Homo sapiens: one gene and its partner. The protein of the gene in region 2 purifies or fractionates together with the protein of the main gene of each other region. This does not show direct contact. Each region holds a gene or a part of one and is shown on either strand. Other genes may lie near its edges.

Region 1 (3,821 bases), on a different chromosome or scaffold from region 2:
GGGCTTACTGCAAGCTCCGCCTCCCGGGTTCACGCCATTCTCCTGCCTCAGCCTCCCCAGCAGCTGGGACTACAGGTGCCCGCCACCACGCCCAGCTAATTTTTTGTATTTTTAGTAGAGACGGGGTTTCACCGTGTTAGCCAGGATGGTCTCGATCTCCTGACCTCGTGATCCGCCTGCCTCGGCCTCCCAAAGTGCTGGGTTTACAGGCGTGAGCCACTGCACCCGGCCTCACAAATCTTTCTTAAACTACAATACTGGCTACCATTCCTATTAAAACAGCCAGCAGAGGCAGCTCCCGGGCAGCGTGCGTGCAGTGAGCAACCCTGCTGCTGCCTGCTCGGCTCCCACAGCCCATCACTCGGCTCCCACAGCGCCCGCACCGCGGCCCATGACTGCCTGAACACAGACGCCGCCAGCCAAGATGTCAACCCGAATTCTCCTCACAAAGGCCTGCCGTCCAACTCCATGACCAATGTCCCTGTTGACACAGGTGGGGCTGCCCAGGCTACTGCTGTTGAGGGTCTGACAGAGGCTGAGGAGGAAGAGCTCAGGGCCCAGCTACCAAGACGGATGAGGAAACTGTCACTCTACACCAGTGCTGGCAGCCAAGGAGGGGGACTGTGGAGAGCTTGAGAGGAGGCTGGGCCTCTCTGCCTTGGAGGCTGAAACGGAACCCTCTCTAACGCCTATGTGAAGACTTCTGAGAAATGTGGAAGTGGAATGAGAAAGTGGCCCACCCGGATCTCTGCAAGACTCAGGAAATGCTCCCACAGCAAGACAGAAGACCTCAACCAAGACAGAGACCTCAGCGGCCCTGTCCATGGTGGGCTCTGCCATCAGTAGGAAGCTCGGAGACGTAAGGAAATTTGCAACTTTCAAGTCGTTTGAAGACCAAGTTGGGCCCATGAAGTCTAAGGTCGTGGGTGACAGAGAACAGCAAGGACAATCTCCCTTCCTCAGCAGGGAGGGGCGACGAGCCCGTCGGATCCCGCACCTCTCTAAGCCTGTGGTCGCTTACGCTCAGCTGCAGAGCACACACACACACCCTCAGCATCACAGCCGGAGCTCTGAGCAACAAAGCGGCCAGCCAGGACGCACACGCAGAGCCGGCTTTGAGAATAGTCCTGCCCATCCACAAGGAGACGTGGCTACCGCATCCACATGAATTTCAACAGTTGTGTACATAGTTATATACTAAAGTTTGTAGGTGAAACAGATAACTGTGCTGTCCTTCCTAGGGGTACAGGAAGTGGACAGGGCGGAGGATTTGAAATACTGAGCCAAAGCCCAGGCTCCCTTTAAGAATCACGTTAGTGGCCAGGCACGGTGGCTCACGCCCGTAATCCCAGCACTCTGGGAGGCCAAGGCGGGCCGATCACGAGGTCAGGAGATGGAGACCATCCTGGCTAACACGGTGAAACCCCATCTCTACTAAAAATACAAAAAAATTAGCCAGGCATGGTGGCGGGTGCCTGTAGTCCCAGCTACTCGGGAGGCTGAGGCAGGAGAATCAGTTGAACCCAGGAGGAGGAGCTTGCAGTGAGCCGAGATTGTGCCACTGCACTCCCACCTGGGAGACAGAGCAAGACTCTGTCTCAAAAAAAAAAAAAAAAAAAGAATCAGGTTAGCCCATCAGAATGTTGAAGCATTGAAGAGTCCTACGCATAAGTGGCATTTTTGACCTCCTCCTTCCCTAACTCACAGAAGGAATGCAATCACCCAGAAAGCCCTACCTGTTCCATGAGTTTTTATCTTGAAATGCTAAACAAGAAGTGTCCATTTCCTGCCCACAGAAAGTAAACTGAATATCAACAACTGCCCAATTGTTGTACTAATCTAGCTTTAATGAAAAGCAAATTCATTATTTTTTTTTAATGCAGTGGACTTTTCAAAAATCGAAATTAGGCAAAGCAGCTTTAGCCTCCTAGTGAGAGAATATTATTTCTTTGGACTCAAGCTGAAATTCAAGCCTCACATTACCTCATGCTTTATTTATCATAAACATATAAATGAGGGTTGCTCAATGGCTGTGAGTACTGTGTGGGATTTTACACCTGGCCTGTGTGACTGCCTGTTCCAGTTGGGGTGTTGGTTTCACTAACACGCTCCATCCCAGTGTATAAAACTTGCTTCTCTTCTCAAGCAGGGCAGCTCCCCTGGCTCCCTACTCTGCCCTGAAGGACTTTTGGGCTCCCAGGGGTGGGAGGGGCTAAGAGAAGGAAAAGCCTGTCTTTAGCACCCTTTAGAAGAGCTGTGCCCGCTTCCCAGTGCTGCCTTGCATGGGCCTGGCCCGGGGGGCACTCATCAGTGACTCCAACCCGCCTGCTGGCTGCACTTCAGATGAAATGACCCCACAGGTCAGGTGGAGGGTGGGGCATGGGCATCGGCCAGGATTGCTGTCACCTTTTCTCCGGAGCTACCAAGATCGTTCCTGTTTCTAAGCAGTCGCACCCCAGCAGCCTCTCTCTCTCCACAGCCCTGCGTGTCAGGCAGCCTCTCTCTCACACCACAGCCCTGCGTGTCAGGCAGCATCTCTCTCTCTCCACAGCCCTGCGTGTCAGGCAGCCTCTCTCTCTCTCCACAGCCCTGCGTGTCAGGCAGCCTCTCTCTCTCTCCACAGCCCTGCGTGTCAGGCAGCCTCTCTCTCTCTCCACAGCCCTGCGTGTCAGGCAGCATGGTTTGCAGGGGCAGCTCTGTGCCTCAGTGGCTCTTGGTAGGACACTGAGGGCCTGCCTGTGGTGTGCACAGCTCTGCCACTCCCGGGAGGGGAAGTGCTGCTCAGCTCAAGGTGTCCTGTTCGGCAGAGGAAATGTCCTCTGACAACCGTGTCCCCAGACAGTTCAGACACCCTCGGGGACAGCATCGCACACACGACGACAATGCAGGGGCCAGGGAACCCCAGCGCTCGGTGCCCTTTGTCCAGTGGGATGTGGTAAGAAGGCAGGTTGCAGGGGTGTAATTGATGTATCTTTTCCCCAAAGTTATTATACTAATGAGTAACTTGTCGATAAAGCATTCTTTTGGGGAAAGACTTTTAACCAATTAAATAAAGAAAGCGTGAGTGGAGGGTGTGCACGCACCATCTTGTCGGGGGTGTTGAGGTACAGGTCCACCACGTAACGGATACGCTTCTGCAGCATGGCCTCGTCGTCATCAGGGTACATCAGCCTCATGAAGTCAGGGTTCTCCAGGACGTCCAGAGTCAGCTGGCAGATGGAAGCCTGGTTCTCTTTGGCAGCAACATGCATCACGTTGTACCTGCACCCTTCCTGAAAGAGAACCGCATGCTCTGAGCTTCCTATCTGATGTGTGGACACGCCCTGTGCGAGTGCTGCGATGGAACGGCCGGGACCGCACACCTGCCCGAGGGAACCGCCGAGACCTACCTGCACGATAGTGGGGTTGTCTCCTGAGCCTATCAGATACCGGGGGTTGCTCCAGATAAGGTCAGAAAAGGTGTCCTCCTCTCCCTTCTCCACAGCTTTCCGAAGCTTGGCGGTGAGGTCCTGCGTGCGGGGATTTTTGTAACTGTTCGCTCGCTCTTTGTTGACTGTTTCTGATTCCGACAAGCACAAACCATCTGTCAGTAAGAGACAGAATTTAAGAACAATCAGTTTCACCAAAAGTCACTCATCACCCATGCACCCTCTGATGAGGGATAAGCAGCTTTCCACAGAGGCTTCTGGGCCAACTGGGAGGCACAGGTGAGAAAAGACGAGAAGGGCCCACGGCCACCGGCCCCAGCATGCAACGCAATCAATGGCAGCCAGCGTGCCCGTCAGCAGAGCAAGTGAGGGAGAGCAGCCAGACCCGGCCAC
Region 2 (3,821 bases):
AAGGATGTTATTTGTTCTGGGTTACATATTTCATTCCTATGTAAACTAATATTTAAAAGAAAAGATAAGTCATTTGCATTTTCTCCACCACTATCACAAAAGAAGAGCTTTAATTGAACACCTAGCTGTTGAGCACAACTTTACTTGGCTTTATGGAACAAAAAGATGAGTAAATACTAACATGATAGTAATCTATCAGTTTGAAAATTTTATAATCTATATATGGAAAATGTATAAGCTCAGAACAATTACAAAATATACAAACAAATATATAATGTAAATGGAACTATATAGAGTTTTATATGTATAGTTATAGATAAATGTAGGAAGCTGAGAATGTTAGGAAGAAGAGACTTCTTAGGGAAAATAATTATTATACCAGACCATATCATTAGCTAGTAGAGAAAATCTGGCCCACATGCATGCTTTGTTTGGCCATAGGGTTATTTTAAACAATTATTTTAGCCTGGATATACACCAATATGGTTTGGCTGTGTCCCCACCCAAATGTCATCTTGAATTGTAGTTCCCATAATTCCCACATGTCATAGGAGGGACCCAGTGGGAGGTAACTGAATCATAGGCAGTTACCCTCATGCTGTTCTCATGATAGTGAGTTCTCATGAGATATGATGGTTTTATAAGGGGCTTTTCCCTGCCTTCAGTCTGCATCTGTCCTTGCTGCCACCATGTGAAGAAGGGCGTGTTTGCTTTCCCTTCTGCCATGATTGTAAGTTTCCTGAGGCCTACTCAGCCACGCCGAACTGTGAGTCAATTAGATCTCTTTCCTTTATATATTACCCAGTCTCGGGTATGTCATTAGCAGCATGAGAACAGACTAATATATACACTTTTTTGTTAGCCACAGTTATCATTACTTTCTGCCCCTAGATTCTCTCCTTGTTGATACTGGCTTCTGAAATTATTTGCCTTTTTGCCCTATGAAAGAATGAAAACATATTTCAGAATTCTATGGATCAGCTGAGGAAAATGTGGGTAGGAAGCAGGTAGAGGTTTAGGCTGCACAGAACAGCTACCTAGAAAAGTGGCACATGAAGTAGTCTTGCTGTGAAAAGTCAGGCTTGGTTTATCATGTTGAAATGTTGCCAATGATTAACATTGTAAAGACACAGGAGGAAGGAAAGTAAAAAAAAGTATTCAGGAAACACTGATCAATCCAGTATGGTAGAGATGAAGCACGAGGCCAGTTCTGTTTCATAATTGTCCACCTTTTTCATATACCAGTATTGCAAACACATAAATCCAATCTATTCCCAAAGTCTTTACCTTAGGTGATATCCAAGACCCCACCTTCTTTTCAAAAACATAGAAGAACCTGCACACTTCAGTCTCCCATTGGACATGATCACTTTTCTATCTGAATGAAAGAAATCAAGGGAGAAAAGATATTGGGGGTCATTTCTTCTTTCTCTAGTAAAGAAAGACGAGGAGCCAAGGCTCAGAAGTGCAAAGGAGAAGTATTCAACAGGGTATAACTAGATCTAGTGTGCATTTTAACATTTGAAATACATATTAAAATTGATGCATTTAAAATGAACTCATGATATTATTCAGCCATAAAAGAGAATGAAACCATGTCTTTTGCAGCAACATGGATGGAACTGGAGTCTATTATCATAAGTGAAACAACACAGAAACAGAAAGTCAAATACTGCATGTTCTCATTTATCAGTGAGAGCTAAAAAATGGGTACACATGGACATACAGTGTGGAGTAATAGACACTGAAGACTCGGAAGGGTGAGAGAGTCAGAGGGGGATGGGGAATGAGAAATTATTTAATGGGTACAATGTATATTATTTGGTGATGAATACACCAGAAGCCTGGACTTCACCACTACATAATATATCCATGTAACAAAACGGTACTTGTACTCATTAAATTTATACAAATAAATTAAATTTAAAATAAAATAAGCTCATGAACACCAGTCTATCTGCACCTTCCAATACTTTCTGAAAAAAAAAACACATAAATTACATGGTATACTGTATACTCTGATGCTAAAGAATAAGTGTCTATTTTTCAATTAAATATATATAAAAAAAGATTTGAATGTTTAAATTAATTGACAGCTGATCTAAAAAAAAAAGGTAATCAGAATTTTTCATTAGTTGTCACTACCTAGCAAATGTACAACCAGAAAGGAATTCCACAGTGGAACTAGACTCCTGTCGTCCTCCTGACTGCTATAGAATGTAGGAACATCACCATAATGAGAGCAGGGCTCTTACCCTGGGAATAGACCTCGCTTCTAAATTCCCCAATTGCATCATGGTAACACTGAGATAAAACCAACAATTACCAGCCAGGATGTCAGCCTCATCCATGGACTGGGTACTGAAAAGGATCACATGATCTGCTCTACGCTCTCTCAGGAGGCTCCACACTTGATCTCTGGAAAAGGGATCCAATCCAGTAGTTGGTTCATCTAAAAGCAAAATCTACAGAGAATGAAGATATATAAAATATGTCTCTCTTTCACATTAACTGTATCCAGAAGATAGCATGAAAAACAATAAATACCATAAAATAATAACCATCCAGCCATTTTTCTCCAATATACTTCTATTTATAGTTAAACATAGCAGGTTCTCTCTTGATGCATTACAATGAAAGCTCTACCACTTTTAGTGGTAAAAGAACTTGACATTTTGCAGACATTCGACCTGCTTCCTTCCCCATGCATAATCTCACTTACTTGAGGATCTCCTAAAATGGTAATCCCAAAAGTCAGCTTTCTTTTCTGTCCTTCACTTAAATGTTTAGCAAGGTTATCTTGAATGTTTTGCATGTCCAATTCCAATAATATTCGTTGTACCTATATGAGAAAATACGCAACTTTTAAAATCCAAAATGAAGAAGACATTTATGCAGCCAAAAGACACATGAAAAAATGCTCATCATCACTGGCCATCAGAGAAATGCAAATCAAAACCACAATGAGATATCACCTCACACCAGTTAGTATGGCGATCATTAAAAAGTCAGGAAACAACAGGTGCTGGAGAGGATGTGGAGAAATAGGAACATTTTTACACTGTTGGTGGGACTGTAAACTAGTTCAACCATTGTGCAAGTCAGTGTGGCAACTCCTCAGGGATCTAGAACTAGAAATACCATTTGACCCAGCCATCCCATTACTGGGTATATACCCAAAGGATTATAAATCATGCTGCTATAAAGACACATGCACACGTATGTTTATTGTGGCACTATTCACAATAGCAACACTTGAAAACAACCCAAATGTCCAACAATGATAGACTGGATTAAGAAAATGTGGCACATATATACCATGGAATACTATGCAGCCCATAAAAAATGATGAGTTCATGTCCTTTGTAGGGACATGGATGAAGCTGGAAACCATCATTCTCAGCAAACTATCGCAAGGACAAAAAACCAAACACCGCATGTTCTCACTCATAGGTGGGAATTGAACAATGAGAACACATGGACACAGGAAGGGGAACATCACACATGGGGGCCTGTTGTGGGGTGGGGGGAGGGGAGAGGGATAGCATTAGGAGATATACCTAATGTTAAATGACGAGTTACTGGGTGCAGCACACCAACATGGCACATGTATACATATGTAACTAACCTGCACGTTGTGCACATGTACCCTAACTTAAAGTATAATAAAAAATAAAAATAAAATCCAAAATGATTCATATTATGCAATTTTAACCACTCATTAAAGCAGTCGATATTTGTTATGGGACCTCTTTGCCTAAATTTTATTCATAACAGGGCAAATAAATCATTGAAGAGAATTCTGTGGTCATGATTTAATT

Evidence for each region.
Region 1: the proteins of ABCA6 (region 2) and ANKLE2 purify together in Homo sapiens (affinity purification with mass spectrometry; one large-scale study listed by BioGRID and IntAct). This does not show direct contact.

What each region holds. Positions count from the first base shown.
Region 1 is NC_000012.12:132,744,749-132,748,569, forward strand, and holds part of ANKLE2 (ankyrin repeat and LEM domain-containing protein 2), read right to left. Parts: intron 3,584-3,821; coding exon 3,390-3,583; intron 3,273-3,389; coding exon 3,084-3,272; intron 1-3,083. UniProt on the Homo sapiens protein: Involved in mitotic nuclear envelope reassembly by promoting dephosphorylation of BAF/BANF1 during mitotic exit.
Region 2 is NC_000017.11:69,110,896-69,114,716, forward strand, and holds part of ABCA6 (ATP-binding cassette sub-family A member 6), read right to left. Parts: intron 2,843-3,821; coding exon 2,723-2,842; intron 2,466-2,722; coding exon 2,327-2,465; intron 1,379-2,326; coding exon 1,288-1,378; intron 46-1,287; coding exon 1-45. UniProt on the Homo sapiens protein: Probable transporter which may play a role in macrophage lipid transport and homeostasis.